Regions from separate parts of the Homo sapiens genome. Here region 1 is linked to region 2. Evidence: fine-mapped QTL for protein levels in blood plasma. Region 2 holds a variant in brackets. A gene starts in the other region. All regions are shown on their reverse strands.

Region 1 (8,269 bases), not on the chromosome of region 2:
AAAACAATATGTGTTAACAAGTTATGTTAGTCTATAGGTGCTTACACATTCTATTTATACTATTTAAACAGTCTTCTTGTTGGTTAACCACTTCTAAAAAGATGTAGTATTTCCCTATTTAAATGACAATGAAGCACTGATTTATCTTCTGAGTCTTTGTGTCCTCAGCACTCAAAGAAATGGGTTGTGTCTCTGTTCTGTTTCTTTTCTAACCCCATTTTGATAGTTAACCCTTTGGGTCTCCAAGGAGCACTTGCCCTAATTATGATAGGATAATGAAACACTGACATCTAATTATAACATTTATGAAGGTAGTAGATGCCAATTACAAACTAGGAGGCATGTGGCTTTATATTCTTCCTTATGTAACAATTGTGGTTTTAGAAAAGAGATCAGATTCAAAAAATAGTTTGAGCTATATCATTTCCCACTGATGCTATATTATGCCACTTCTTCCAGATCTATAACTATGTGATAGTTATTTTGAGCTTTGAAGACCTCAGGACTCTTTCTAGCTTGGAACTCAAAAATCTCTTTGACGATGGGTATTTTGTTGAATCCTTTCATTTAAGCAAGTCCCTGGAGGAAGAGCTTTTAACCCAGGCACTATATAAATAATCATCGGATTAATAGACCCCGATTAAAAAAAAACTGTAAACAAATTAATATTTTGAACACAGTCCTTGTAGAGTGAAATTGTGTTCTTTTGAGATATGTGTAACAAAGTACTTTGAGGATGTGAACATCATTAATATTTTAGCCTTAATTATTTTACCCTCACAACCTTAAGTGTCCCCCAACAGCAAATCAGTGAAATGTCAATTATAATTTTAAAAAAAATTTATCACTTTGGAATAAAACTTTAGGAAGTATCACAAAGAAGCAATGTAAGGTGGTAACACTGGGTCCTGTTAAAATCTTGGGCAAGTTATCCAGTTTTTCTAGGCTGTTTCCTAATCATCAAAATGAGTTTTGGTATGGATCAGATGAAATAATGCATTAAAATCACTTTGTAGATAACAGTAAACAATAAATGTTTATTGAATCTGAGGAATCAAATGGGTAGGATGTTAGGAGCTGTTAGGCTCTCTAGAAGCAAATTTTTACTTTAAAGAGTATAAAATCAGGCTTATGTTTACTGCACTTGTATCCTTATTCCCCTTGTAACTTGTCCTTAAATAATTTGTCATGGCTTTTGGTTAATAAACACATCTCTCTTTCATCTCCCCACCATAAAATAAAAAGATAACATCCTTATGCTCTCAGCATGGTCTTACCTTCAGACTCTAGAAATACATAGCTGGATGTGTTTTCTGGGAAAACATATAAATTAAAATCATTTTTGGCAGGTAAACATTGGCTACTAATAAATAGTTCTAGTAAGCTCTCCTCCTTATAACCTAAGGATTTATGTTATAGCTCACTTATCCAGTGGGCTTACCAGAATGCAGTCATATTCCAAAGTCAGCCTTACAAGGTCCCTCTCTGGAAAGAACTCAGTTGATGAGCCTCTACTCTCCTAATTGCTGCCCTTACATTTTTACATGACAAATCATCATCCTTTCTGGTTTTGCAGCATTTTAATAGACCCAGAGTTGCTTTCTGAGAAAAGTCTCAGTACTAACAAAGGTTAGAACTAACAAAGGTTGAACTAAGGATGACATGCATGTGGTATGTGCCCTTTCCAGTCCTCTTCCCAGGTCCATGAAGAAATCACCAACCAGTGAGAACACTCTTTCTACAGAACACAAACTCAGCTTCAGGCTATTTCTGAACAAGAGCTTTAGGAAGCAAAAGGAAACAAGTATGTAAGAACATTAAGAACATACCTGCCATACTTATACTAGAATGTAAGTTCCTTAAGGGCACAGACTGTGTCTGATTCATTTTTGTTTTCTCAACAAAAATGTTGATGGGGTGTTAACTAATTGTATAAAGTAGGAATAAGAGTCAGTTTCGTAAATGTTTTTTAAAAGTTGACAAAAGTATTTTCATTTTGATTCCAAAATTAAAAAAAGCTAATAAAGATATTACAATATTTTAAAAATCCAAATTTTATGAGAGTTCTTGTCTGGATGAAAATTAGAATACATTCACATTATCTCAAACGAATGAACATGTGTGACTTTATAAAAACAATACCTCCCTAAACCATGAATTCAGATGGAAAAACTCGACATCTTTATTTCTGCAGTCAGTCTCATTTTTCTTAAAACAGTTCAAACTAGTAAGAATTTTCCAGAAGTTACAGCTTGACTCACCCAACCTTCCAAGGAAAAAACAAAAAAACTTAAACAGACATTGTTTCACTCTCATCATTTCCCACCCTTACTAATAGTGGCAACTTAAGTGTATCTTAAAGCACTCCAACCTCTTCATAGAGCCTATTAAATGAGTATCTTGTGGACACCCACACACAGTCATAGAATCCTAAGTGGTGCTCAGACCAGTCACATGTCAGTGCATTCTTAATTGCTAGAGCTAACATGCTCTCAGCATGGTCTTTTAATTACACCCTAATAATTTATTATAGTTTCTCTCTACAATGTAAAGTCTTGGAAATCACCCACTAAAAAGTGCCTGTGTACTCTGGGGCTTTGGCAGGCTAGGGCAGAACTTCTGAGAACACGGTGTGTTCCAGAGAAGACAATCAATCTGAGAGGACTTACACAGAAACAGTTCATTCAGGACCTGGCTGCTGGCTTTTATCTGAGATCTGAGGATTTCACAATCACTTGGAGATACCTACAAGTGTATAGCACACCTTGGATATTACTCTTAATGATTACTTCATTTTGTAAAGAGGTGACTCCACCAACAGCAAAGGAGAGGGCCCAGCCCCAGCCACCAGGAATACAGTTCTCTGCCAGTAAGTGCCTAATGACTCATTTTCCTCAACAGAATTTTCATAAGGCTGGAATTCAGGGAGGGATGTCTGGAGAATGTCTGAAAGGAAGTTCACAAGCCACTGTCCTGCTCTTTGCTGGAGAAAGTGTCCCGTGGTAGCCAGAGAAGTTGACTAAGGCAAACAGCAACATGTTTTGGTAACATTTCCCCATTACCTTTCATGTACAATCCAAGAAAGGTTGCCATGAAGTGTTTTAATCAGGTTGGGAACATTATAAACTTCGAAAAAAGAAAACCATTAGTGGAAAAATTAAGGACACAGTAGATTTAACAACTGTGTTTACGTGGAACCACAAAATCTATCCAAGTGAATTGCATTAAAACAGACAGAACACTCCAAGAAACTGTTGTATGTGTATTTTTTTTAATTCAGTCAACCATTTTACTAATCTGTCAAGATGACCAATTTCTTTGGAATTATGTAGATTTAGCCAAAATGAAATTATACATAAGATTTACTTTTCTTTTCAGATGCTTTTTTATTTATTTTTAAATCTTTATAATTACTAGATGTTCTCCTCTCTCAGAAGATATTCTGAGAGGAAAGCAAAAATACCACTCTTGTAAAGCCATTTCCATTCTTCCAAAGGTCTGCTGGTAAATTATTCTTACTGATCTTTCCATCTTTCTAGCCTGTGCATACACACCTAACCCATACTAAATTTCACCAGATGGCATTTTATTTCTTTAAAGTAAAGCAGCCGTGGGTTTAGACAGTTGAATTTTTAAACTTCTGTATTTACTGAAAGTGCATATGGTGCTATATGGACAAAGAAATTGTGCTGAAAGAAAAACATTTCTGTCTGCAATACCTCATAATCTTCCAGAGGAAAAAAAAGTGCAGTTATATGGCACATTTCTCACAAAATCTTATGTGGCTTCAATGTTCTTCCTCTGTTAAAAAGTAGATATATGTTTAATGTACAGACCTGCAAGTTTCATTATTTTAAATTCATCTTTTAGTGGCAAATAAAAATGTTATGCAAAACCCAATGACTTGCTAAAGTGATCCTTCAGTGAATTCTAGAAGAAAATGCAACATAAACCTGAACTGGTAAAAAAGAAAAAATAAAAACCTCTGTATGTCAACGTAAGCAGATGTTGGTGTAGTTACAAGGATGAGAAGGCTATAAAACTTCCCTTGAGTCACTCACAGTTCATTTGAGGGCCAAGAACGCCCCCAAAATCTGTTTCTAATTTTACAGAAATCTTTTGAAACTTGGCACGGTATTCAAAAGTCCGTGGAAAGAAAAAAACCTTGTCCTGGCTTCAGCTTCCAACTACAAAGACAGACTTGGTCCTTTTCAACGGTTTTCACAGATCCAGTGACCCACGCTCTGAAGACAGAATTAGCTAACTTTCAAAAACATCTGGAAAAATGAAGGTTAGTATAAGCAACCTCAAGTATTCTTAAAAAATTAGGGTTGGCTGGATTGAACGTGATCAGAGTTTTCTATTGTTTAGAAGGTGAAGATTTGTACATAAGTATTTACTTCCTCAATGGGTTGGGATTGGAAAATTGTTCTAAATATACTGTAGAAACATTTGTCCTTGCAGAGCTGGAAGAATTCCAGCAATTATAGCCGGATCAGTGGAAAACAATCAAAAGCTTTGTGGGGCGAGAGAAAAAGGATTTAGGTGTAAACAAAATCTTGCCATTTCTACTATTTAGCAGGAACTGTGTGTATGCCTAATTCTCTTTATTTTATGTAGACTTGGGTAAAAATCGTATTTGGAGTTGCCACCTCTGCTGTGCTTGCCTTATTGGTGATGTGCATTGTCTTACGCCCTTCAAGAGGTAAGAACTTTCTCTGATTTGCTCTATCTGCCTAGAATAGCTTGGAAAATGTACTAATGCAAGATCACAAGTGGTTGAACATTTCCTAAGTGCTTATGTTCCAAAGTAAGTCTGTTATTTCTAAGAAGACATATAAGCTCACAGATATGTTGTTGTGCAAGACCAGAAATACTGAGGAATTTAAGGCATGGGTAGGAAGAGATTTACAGTGTTATTTCAGCAATAGAAAAACCTAAGAACTATGCTGCATCACCCCCACAACCCCCAAAAATATATGCTAAATACAAGCTTTGACAGGCCTTTAGAAACAACATTTTTAACTAACATTGCTTTTCATTATTAGGTTTGTCTCGTGGAAAGTAAAAATGAGTAAGAATGGAAAAGTTAAAACAGAATCTATGGACTTTTTTTATTACTAAATAGTCTTTCCAAAAATTTAGGGAGGAAGTTGAGAATACAGATCTCAGGAATAGCTGTATAGAAAAAGCAAAGTTGTTGTTTTAGATGTAGTAGCACTGCACATCAAATTAGAAAACCAAACATTGTTAAGCAAGCATTTTGATCAGTCATAAATTGGATCCTTTTACAAAAAAGGCTTAGATTGACACTGATCTCACTTTGCTAAAAATTGGAAGGTACTATGGGCTGATATCAGAGCTAGTTTAAATATAAAGTAGGACTATGTTGATAGATAATCTAGTGATATTAGGGAAATAGCTTTTTATGAAAATATTTATGAAGAGAAACTCAAGCTTCTGAAATGGAAAAAAAATCCAGTAATAACAGGTCTTATGTCTTTGTGTCTAGGAAAGGGGAAAAATTTGTACTAATAAATACTAAAAGTTTATGATAACAAATGTGGGAAATATCTTGGTTAAAAGTTAACTGATAGTAAATGAAGATCAATAAAATAACTTCAGCTAAAGAATGTATGAGTCCTGAATGACTGGACTGTTGCTATTAAAAAGAACATAGAAAAATGTTTTCGAAAATTAAAAATAATCATGAGATTTTCACAGAATTACAAAATAGAATAGGTTAACCCATAAGATGAAGTCAGCTGATATCTTCAGTGTTAATTTCAGTCTTTGTTTCTGCTCTCTGCCAGCACAAGATTCTTCTTAGGCTGTTGAGAGGTATGTAGTGTGTGTACATATCTTTCATAAATTTTCATGTTAAAATTGTTTTCAGACTCATCTCTGAACTCAGTGGTCTTGGGGCCACATTTCCCTCATACCAGCAATTGTCAGGTAGTGGATTAGGTCATATAGATCCTTTGAATGTTAATTCATTAAAAATTAGCTCCTGATTTTTAAAGAAACTCAACCTTGAAATTGATACTCTGCACCCTCAGAAATAAATGTTCTTGGAACAAAAGTTTGTTAATTTTATAGGGCACTTGCCTCCATGTCCATAGGGAAGGATGAATTTCACTATGGAATTCAAGCTATAATTTCTAATAAGAAATGCATTATATTTACATATTTACAAATGATGTATAGAGATACACATACACAGATATTTGTGTGATCACATATAATCTCAATCCCTACCCTCTTTCCAAGTTTAGTTATGTATAGCTTACATATAAATATACGTCGTAAACTATATATAGTATAAAAGTCCTATGTAATTTATAATACAATTCTATTTTCAACTAACAGGAAAATTCTAAGAATAAAGTGATTTCTTGATAGGGTGAAATAATCAAATTAAACTCAAGTACTCAGTGAAATTTGAGTACTCATTCAGAAATAGAAAAATCATAAATAAGGTGAGAACTGTTGTTTTTTGGTTCATTATATCATTCTCTTTCTCTTCTAAATTTGCTGAATAACTTCTCAGAATGTCAGCTAAACAGCTTGTGAATGGCACTAGTCATTACCCTACTTTCCTGAGCAGGACCCGGGGAAGTCAGTGCCACAGGCAGCCCTGAAGTTAGGCGTGGTGGCCTCCTAATTTTCCTCCTTTCTTCTCACATCTCACTGGTCAATCAATCATCTCCCGTCTGGAGTGCCAGGTCCAGTCCTCACTCTCACATCTGCCCAGTGCCTATGAGAATAGGATCTGAGATGGCAAGGCAGGAAAGGGAAGGAGGAAGGGGTAAAAAGAACAGAGAATTCAAAGCTAAGCGAGCTCCTACTTAGCCTCTTTCTCACATTCATCAGAAATCCCATTACTTCACATTTGCCTTAGGTGCCCTCATATCCTCAGCCCAGAATTTTATGCACCAGTGTATGAACTGTCTTCTTCTGAGAAACTTAAAGCCACACTCAGGAAACATTCATTCATTCATTTACATATTAGTGTATTAGTTCTACTAACTCCCTGCTCATCATCATGCCAGTTGCTGAGGATATGGAGGTGCAGCAGTCTAGAATTCCCTCTGCAAGTTGGGGAGTAAGAATCCAGTGCTTTCTGCACCCAAAGATGCATGGTCAGCACCACAGATACCAGAGAAGGATTTGTGTTATTTCACATCACGTCTAAAGGAAAGAAAAAAGAGAAAGGCTCTTCCATCCCAGGAGAACCAGCTTCAGGATTAAAAGGGTTTAGGAATAATTAAACTGGATTATAAGAACAAATATGAAATGTAGTAGTGAAATGAGAAAATCCATTTAGCTCACTTACAAAATATTAACTATAAGGAAAAACTTTTTTCGAAACTTGTAAAATATTCCCTTTTTAGTTTTGCCAAAGTGTGAAGCACACATGAATTTCTACCCCTTACTCCCAGGTTGTCCTTGCCTTCAGCTTACACCCCTTCAACTGACTCCTTTCCTCTCTCCTACCTCCATTCACTTTTTCTTTTGAGGTTCTTCTTCACAAGCATCACCCCTCTTCGTCTGTGAATATGCAACAAGGCTGAGAGTGGAAACTAAGCTCCTTGACTTCCCCTTATTTTTGTTCACCCCAAAGACAAACATAAAGACCTTCTTGCTTCAAGAGATTTAACAGAGGTTACAAAAGCAAAAAACTAGAAGTGAAAAGTTACAGAGGTTGCAGAATTTTGCAGGTAAATTCTACACAAACTTGATTCATGATTTATATTTTCTGAATACCTGGACCATTCCTCCTTGGCTTATAGAAAGAAATCATAGGAACTATTTGACCTCGTTTCAGATTCTTTTGAGTATAGAGTGCCCCACATGGTGATGAACAAATACTCAACAAATGTTAGTTATTTTTTTTCTAAAATTTCTAACATGTAGTAAATACTTCATAAATGATAGCATTTTGTGTCTGTGTTCTTCCATTGTTGAGAATATGTACTTCTACACTCAACAATAGCAACTATTCCATTCTGTGTGATGTATTTCAATTTCAAAAATGTCTTAATTCCGAGAGTAGAGAGCCTTTATCCCAGAATATCATCCCTGTTCCTATCCCCAACTTTTTTTTTTTAACCAAAAACAACAAATGTTTCAGAAACTTTTGTGTCTGAAGCACTCATACAGAACACTGATGGCTCTAGGGCAAAAGCAAAACAAAAGGAAAGAAGAAAGATATAAGAAGCTGAAGGGTGGAGGAATGGAGAATAAGGCTGAGTGAGAGTAAAAAAGG
Region 2 (8,273 bases):
TACCCCCCGGGTTTTCTCGGTTTCCTTTCGCACCTGCTCACCCACCGGCCAGTTCTCTCCTGAGCTCATGATGCCAAAACCCACATCCGGCCGCAGACAGCACCCGCAGAACATTCGCTGCCCGGCCTCAGAGTCCAGGGCTCACATTTATTAGGTTCTTGCTCCGCCTTCCAAACACCCCACCACGTCCTCCCTGCTCCGCCTGGCCCGGGCAGCACTGCCCCGAGTCAGCCAGGATGAGCCAGGCTGTGCGGTGGTAACGAACGGCCCGACCCTCAGCCGCTGACTCCCTCCAGTGTGGGCCTGTGGCAGGTGTGGGGTCTGCGCCTCGTCCTCGCCCAGCCGCCCAGGTTGGGGAGCCCCCAGCGTGTGCTGCCAGGCCTCCGAGGTGGGAACGGGAGGTGGAGTCACGCCTGATCTCTTGGCACCACCTCTCATGCCCACAACATCTCACTGGCCACCTCAAGTGACAAGCTCATGCCAAGCTGCAAAGGGGTGGGAAAGAAAGATTCCAGCAAGAAAGCTGGAGGCTTGGGGAACAGCACTGATGGGCCTCCCCGTGCACCTCGGGCGCCTTGAGGCACTGCACGTGCTGTGGGGTGTGTGCCTGTGAAGAGGGCAGGGCCGCACTTGGGAGGGAGAGAAGGGGAGTCGCTGCCCCGGGGAACAGCAGCTGCATTAGAGCAAGAAGGTCAGGGCACCCCCATGGGGCTGTTCGACCGGAAGCTCGAGGAAGGGGCTTTTCACCCTCGTTCTGACCCAGAGCTTCTCTGAATCTGTCCTGACCGTCTGCAGGCATTGGTGAAGCTGGCCCAGCAGCTCCTGGAAGGCACCCTCTAGCTGCAACTCCAAAGGGGCTTTTCGGCTGCAGCTCCCACCACGGCTGCTGAAGAAAGGGCTTGGGAAGGAAGGCGCTGTGGCCATCCTGAGATGCAACCTCATTCTCCACTCTGAGCCTGCAGAAAGACAGGGCGCCCACTTACAGAGACAATTTCAGATTGCTTTTGTGGAAGATGAATGCTCAGATGCTCTTTATTTCTCTGTGAATTAAAACCCTAATTTAAACATTAGCTGGGCATGCTAATGTGTGTGTTACTTGGGAGTTCCAGCTACTCGGGAGGCTGAGACAGGAGGATTGCTTGAGCCCAGGAGGTGGAGTCTGCAGTGATCTGTGATGGTGCCACTGCACTTCAGCCTGGGTGACAGAGTGAGACCCTGTTTCAAACAAAGAAACAAAACCCACAAACCAAAACAAAACAAAACAAAACTCTATTTATTCCTCACTCTATTTTTTGGCCATTGAGAGACCCCACAGAGACTTGCTTTTTCCTTAAACTGCTAAGTCACAAAGTTCTAGAGCTTACTGTGAGAAACAAACTCACTCGCCCGAACCCAAAGAATGGATTTAGAAACGCAGAAGACAGCAAAAGTGAGACTTTTGATGACGGTCTTGCAAGATCAGGTATCTATCTGATGGGCAGGCACTCACAGCACAGTCACAACCAGCGATTTATCTCCCAGTGCACAGGCCCCTCCCCTGCATCCTCATAGGCTGAGTACTGTGGGGTCACAGTCTTCCCATTGGTTGTTGGGCAGCAGCTTTAGGTGTCTTCTTTTGGGTTGTCCTGCTGCATTTTGTTGCAGCCCACAATGCATTGCAATCCCAGTCAGCCCAGGGGCTCTGCGTATTTGACTTATGAGCTAAGTAGCTGGGCAGGCTGATAAGGACAGACAAACCGAGCTATTTTGCAGGCTAGTAAACTTTTATCTTAGACGAAACTTCCCTGGTTTGGGTAAGGGCAACTAAGTGGAGGGAGAAGGGGAGGGAGAAGGCTGACAAGAAGGCATCAGCTATCCAAGCAGGGGCCTAGTATATCCTGTTTCTTCTGTAGTTTGCTGACCTAAGCTGATTTAAGGCACTTTGTCTTGGAAATGGACCACTGTATACATTATTTCCTTCACTTACTTAGGAAGAAGAAGACAGGCCGGGCGCGGTGGCTCACACCTGTAATCCCAGCACTTTGGGAGGCCGAGGCGGCCAGATCACAAGGTCAGGAGATTGAGACCATCCTGGCTAACAGGGTGAAATTCTATCTGTACTAAAAATACAAAAAATTAGCCAGGCGTGGTGGCGGGTGCCTGTAGTCACAGCTACTCAGAAGGCTGAGGCAGGAGAATGGTGTGAACCTGGGAGGCATAGCTTGCAGTGAGCTGAGATTGCGCCACTGCACTCCAGTCTGGACGACAGAGCGAGACTCCGTCTCAGGAAAAAAAAAAAAAAAAAAAAGAAGAAGATATATTTTTTTACAATCTAGATAAATTTTTAAAAAATCAGTTTGTGGGTAGGCATGGTGGCACACACCTGTAATCCCAGCACTTTGGGAGGCTGAGACAGGCAGATCACCTGAGGTCGGGAGTTCGAGACCAGCCTGACCAACATGGAGAAATCCCGTCTCTACCAAAAGTACAAAATTAGCCGGGCGTGGTGGCTCATGCCTGTAATCTCATCTACTTGGGAGGCTGAGGCTGGGAATTGCTTGAACCCGGGAGGCAGAGGTTGCGGTGAGCCGAGATCACGCCATTGCACTCCAGCCTGGGTAACAAGGGTGAGATTCCATCTCAAAAAAAAAAATTGGTTTTGATTGGGTGTTAATTTGAGTAGGTTCACAGAAATATCAACCTTATTTTCCTGTGCAGTGAGAACATTTTGTTTTCCTAATGATGACCAGGTTGTTCTCATCTCTCTGATTATTAGCCTGTCCTTGGAAACCATTAGAAAAAGTCTTAAGATTCCCAAGATGTCAGGTACAAATGCCACCTTCTGAAGTTATCGTGTTTGAACGGCAGTGGGGAAGCCACTTGAAGCACTCACACCAAGGCGGGGGTCAGGGACTGGCAGCAGCGAGCCCCCGCTGCCCACTGCCCAGAGGCCTGCCCCGTGCCATACGAGGCATATTTGGGGAAGGCTCCAAGCCTCAAAGATACAGCTCCTTTGTGGCCAGGAGACCCAGCTCTAATTCAAGAAAGAAGTGAACCCCTGAGAGGAAGCCGGAGTCCTGGGGGACTTGCGGGAGCAGATCTCCAGGCCAGGACCCTCACTTCTGGATGCACGGCGGCTCCCCCTGCAATGCCGCCAGTGGAAGGGGCCAGTGACATGAGCGAAGAGGGTGGGCCCTGCACACCCAATGCTAAATCTTCCAGTACCAATGTTTCTAAAAAAGCAAAAGTAAATGGGTGATATTTGTTTTAATAATCTATTTTTTAAAATTTTAATTAAAAAAATTTTTTACTGATTTAATTTTAATTAATTAATTGTTTTTAGAGGTGGGGTCTCTGTCATCCATGCTGGAGGGCAGTGGCACCATTACAGCTCACGGCAGCCTCAACCACCCGGCCTCAAGCGATCCTCTTGCCTTGGCCTCCCAGTGCTGGGATTACAGGAGTGAGCCACCATGCCTGGCCAGCAATCTACTTAAACAAACATATCCAAAATAGTTTCTCAACATATCATCAACAAAATATACTATTGATGAAATACTGACATTTTACAAAGAAATTTTTTTTCTCACCAAATCTTCAAAATCCAGCATGAGCTTTGCACTCACAGCAGTTTGAGAATGGAACTGGCCACGTTCCAAGGGCTCGGTGGCCACAGGGAGCTCCTCAGAGCGCAGCCAGGCCAGAGGCTGCACCGAGGTGCAGAATCAGAGGAGGCACCGGAGACCCCAGAGTCCAGTCTGAGACGGCACAGGGAGCAGGTCTCTGGTGGCCTTGACAAGCTCCAGGATAGGGTGGGGAGGGGACTGGACCCTGGGGACCTCAGAGCAGAGCAGGGGAAACAGGAGCCCCCACCTGGGGAGAGGGGGCCTCCTCTCCAGGAACCCCAATCAAGACGAGCCTCACGTGACTCCCACTTCCTCTTGGAGGGTGCAGGGGCCTCTCCTGAGGTGAGTTTTGTTTCTGATTTTTTCAGGGGAAACTTCTCAGCACATTGTCCTTGGCCAGATGCCACAGGAGCCGCTGACCCAGTGACGTCACCTCATTCTGCTCAGATCGCACCCCCTGTCCGTGGGGCACTGAGGCAGGAAGAGGAAACTGCTGTAATCTCAGGAAGCTTTTGGCCAGTGGGGCCCTAGAGCCCTGCCCAAGCCCTACTGGGTGTGGCCCCGAGTCCAGGAACCCCCCTCCCCCCTGACCCTCATGTCCCCTCGACCTCTGTGGCATTTTATAAAACAAAGGGGCCCCGGAAAGCGGAAGGAGGGGGTCACACGTGTGAGCCCTGAGCACCGAAGCTGCCCCCACAGGCCCTGGAATCCTCCCCGTGTCCAAAGACAGCCTCCTCTTCAGTCAGTGCTCCCTGTCGTCCCCGGTCCTGGGCCTGGAGGGCTGCTGTGGGGCAGGAGCAGTGGCCACTGGGTCTCTGACCTGCACCAGGAGACACGGGGAGGCTTAGGCCTCTGAACCCACATAGAGCAGGACCGCAGCCCCAGAAAAGGGAAGATTTCAGCAGAGGAGGCCTGTGACGAGAGAGGCGAAGGCTTGAGGGGCTCCCTGTGGGGCCTGGAGTGTGGAAGCCCCATTGGGGCCTGGCAGGGACCTGTACCAAGACAGTGAGGTCCTGCAGCAGCTGGGGTGAGGAGAGGAGACTCCCAGGCCTGGTAAAGCGCACAGGGGCCTCTGGCACCCCTACAAGAGGAGGTTGGAGTCACCTGACGCTGTCCTGATGCGGCTCCTGCAGAGAAGACTCCTTACTTAGCCCACAGTGCTTCTACCCGCCCTGACACCGTCCTGATGGGGTCCTGCAGAGAAGCCT[C/G]CTTACTTAGCCTACAGTTTTTCCACACGCCCTGACACCGTCCTGATGGGGTCCTGCAGAGAAGCCTGCTTACTTAGCCTACAGTGTTTCCACACGCCCTGACACCGTCCTGATGGGGTCCTGCAGAGAAGCCTCCTTAGCCCACAGTGCTTCTACCCACCCTCAATGTATAACTTCACGTTCAGAAATGTGTTACCCCCCTCCTCAGACCTCACACAATTCACGAATTTCCAAACAGCAGGAAACAGAAACTTCTAAGAAAGCAGAACCCTTGAGTCCAGGTGGGAGAAGGTGCCTGAGAAAACAGCCCTGCCAGAGACAGTACCCCAGCATCCGGACGTTACTCCACAGACGGCCACGTAAGAGACCAGGAACCACCCTTCCCACGGTACCCCAGCGTCCGGACGCTACTCCACAGACGGCCACGTAAGAGACCGGGAACCACCCTTCCCACGGTACCCCAGCGTCCGGACGCTACTCCACAGACGGCCACGTAAGAGACCAGGAACCACACTTCCCAAGCCTTCTGCACTCCCAAAAACATCAGCTTCCCGGAAACCTGAGACATGCTCAAGGAAGAGCACGGTGTGAAGTCAGCTGTGGGTGGAGGATGACCCAGGTGCCCAGGCAAGAGACTGAAGGCACAAACTGTTTCAGTATAATAAAGAAAATGGAATAAGAACAGTCATAGAGTCATAACACAAATTAGATATAGAGATGATCACGGACAATTATCAATCGTTATTATAAACATTATTAATCATTAGCTTTTAATATTACTCTTTGTTCCATTACTATATAACCTGGGAATAACCGGCGGGTATAGGGTCAGGTGCTGAAGGGACGTTGTGAGAAGTGACCTAGAAGGCAAGAGGTGAGCCCTCTGTCACGCCAACATAAGGGCCGCTTGAGGGCTCCTTGGTCAAGCGGTAACGCCAGTGCCTGGGAAGGCACCCGTTACTTAGCCGACCGTGAAAGGGAGTCTCCTTTCCTTGGAGGAGTCAGGGAACACTCTGCTCCGCCAGCTTCTTGTGGGAGGCTGGATATTCTCCAGGCCTGGCCTGCAGTCATCCGGAGGCCTAACCCCCTCCCTGTGGTGCTTGAATGATCACACTCCTTGTCCACTTTCATGCTCTTCCCGTACTCCTGGTTCCTCTTTGAAGTTCGTAGTAGATAGCGGTAGAAGAAATAGTGAAAGTCTTAAAGTCTTTGATTGTTCTTATAAGTGCATAGAAGAAAACGCTGACGTATGCTGCCTTCTCTCTCTGCTCGGCTACCTAAGAGGGAAAGGCCCCCTGTCCTATGATCACGTGACTTGCTTCACCTTATCAATTACTTGGACGACTCACCGTCCGTACCCTGCCCCCTTGTCTTGTATTCAATAAATATCAGCGCAGCCAGCCGTTCGGAGCCACTAGCGGTCTCCATGTCTTGGTGGTAGTGGTCCCCTGGGCCCAGCTGTTTTCTCTTTATCTGTTTGTCTTGTGTCTTTATTTCTTACGATCTCTTGTCTCTGCACACGGGGAGAACACCCGCTAAGCCCCCGTAGGGCTGGACCCTACACAGGAAGTCCCCTTCATTGCTGTGTGGACGTGGTAGATAAAGTGTTCTCAAGCTGGAAAGATTTAACAGATTGGCCCCTCGGGGACCTGGACATTGAATATTTTACTGATGGAAGCAGTTTCGTACTAAGGGGAGTCTGCCGAGCTGGGTATGCCGCGGTGACTTTGGACTCAGCAGTAGAGGTACCGTCTCTGTCTGCAGAAACTTCTGCTTAGAAAGCAGAGCTAATAGCTCTGACAAGAGCTCTCTGGCTAGGAAAAGAGCAGAAGGCAAGTATTTACACAGATTCCAAATATGCTTCTGCCACTTTGCATGTTCATGAGGCTGTTTACAAAGAATAAAAGACTTTTAACGGCTGGAAGTGAAAAAACAAAGTATAAGGAGGAAATTCCACCTCTGTTAAACGCTGTGTGGGCCCTGGAAGAGGTGGCAGTGATGCGCTGCAGGAGGCCCCGAAAAGCAGCAAAGCAGAAAGGCAGACGAAGAGGCAAACGGGCTGCAACGACAACTCCACCTTCTAGAGAGGAAGCCTTAGCTATGCCTCCCGCTCCCGGAGATTCCCCTCCTGGGGATCCCAAGGTCCCCTCCAAACGAAAAGTCTTGGTTTGCCCACAAGAATAAGAACTACATTGAAGAAAGATGGTAAAAATTTTCCAACGGGAGGCTAGCCATACCTGGAATGGTGGCCCTCAGATTTGTAAAACAGTTCCACTGGAAAAAAAACCCAAAAAACCAGCACTAAAGACGTTATTAAGGCATCATTTCTTTTTTTTTTTTTTTTGAGACAGAGTCTCGCTCTATCCCCCAGGCTGGAGTGCTGTGGCGTGATCTCGGCTCACTGCAAGCTCCGCCTCCCAGGTTCACGCCATTCTCCTGCCTCAGCCTCCCATGTAGCTGGGACCACAGGTGCCCGCCACCACACCCGGCTAATTTTTTTTGTATTTTTAGTAGAGACGGGGTTTCACGTGTTAGTCTCGATCTCCCGACCTTGTGATCCGCCCACCTCGGCCTCCCAAAGTGCTGGGATTACAGGCGTGAGCCACCGCGCCTGGCCCTGTTAAGGCATCATTTCTATGTGCCATGGCTCACTGCTATTACTCGAGCCATTTGTAAACAAATGGTGTTAAATTCGTGCTCAGAACAATGCATGACAAGGGCCTACTCGGCCCCCAGGAGTTCAGGAAACAGGAGCCAGGCAGCCATACCCTGTGAAAAACTGTGGTACGGACTTCGAGGAAGTACCCTGAGAGGGGGGTTATCAGTGCACGTGGGTGTTCATTTGCACCTTTTCAGGAGGTTGAGGCCTTCCCCACCCGGACAGAGAAGGCACTAGAAGTAACCAAGGTGTTGTTAAGAGACATTATTCCCAGATTTGGACTGCCTCTAACTCTAAGATCAGACAATAGCCCAATATTTATGGCTGAAATAGTTCAGGACTTAACTTGATTATTAAAAATAAAGTGGAAATTACATACAGCTTACAGGCTGCAGAGCTCAGGTAAAGTGGAATGCATGAACTGGACACTCAAGCAGCTGCTAAAGAAATTTTGTCAAGAGCTGGGCGCGGTGGCTCACGCCTGTAATCCCAGCCCTTTGGGAGGCCGAGGCGGGCGGATCATGAGGTCAGGAGATCGAGACCATCCTGGCTAACACGTGAAACCCCGTCTCTACTACAAACACAAAAAGTCAGCCGGGTGTGGTGGCAGACGCCTGTAGTCCCAGCTACTCAGGAGGCTGAGGCAGGAGAATGGCGTGAACCTGGGAGGCGGAGCTTGCAGTGAGCCGAGATCGTGCCACTGCACTCCAGCCTGGGCGACAGAGCAAGACTCCGACTCAAAAAAATAAATAAATAAAATAAATAATAACAATAAAAGGCCTCAGAGGGGAAGGGAATGAG

Alleles and levels. Positions count from the first base shown, and alleles are read on the strand shown. Strength reflects both the effect of a copy and how common the allele is.
For the plasma level of the protein whose gene starts at base 4,168 in region 1, G is the high allele of the variant in region 2 and C is the other (weak association).

What was found. PIP is the posterior inclusion probability: the model's chance that the variant is causal. The UK Biobank Pharma Proteomics Project read protein levels with antibody pairs (Olink). The fine-mapping took linkage between variants from a reference panel, not from the people measured, so its PIPs are less certain.
Region 1: it holds the start of FAP, and the variant in region 2 is fine-mapped to the plasma level of the FAP protein (UK Biobank, PIP 0.94).

What each region holds. Positions count from the first base shown.
Region 1 is chr2:162,239,344-162,247,612 of GRCh38, reverse strand. It overlaps FAP (fibroblast activation protein alpha), which reads left to right and starts at 4,168. Exons shown (of 26, transcript NM_004460.5): 1 at 4,168-4,291; 2 at 4,621-4,705. The coding sequence starts at 4,286. LOC105373724 (a long non-coding RNA gene) reads right to left here and starts at 1,496. Exons shown (of 4, transcript XR_923544.3): 1 at 1,442-1,496.
Region 2 is chr11:322,925-331,197 of GRCh38, reverse strand. It overlaps IFITM3-AS1 (IFITM3 antisense RNA 1), which reads right to left. Exons shown (of 5, transcript XR_007062540.1): 2 at 3,570-6,623; 3 at 1-1,215. Among named protein-coding and RNA genes, the nearest start is that of IFITM3, 6.2 kb to the right of the region's middle. RefSeq lists enhancers at 1-51, 3,662-3,711, 3,772-4,141, 4,562-4,701. The variant C/G (reference allele first, on the strand shown) is at 4,814.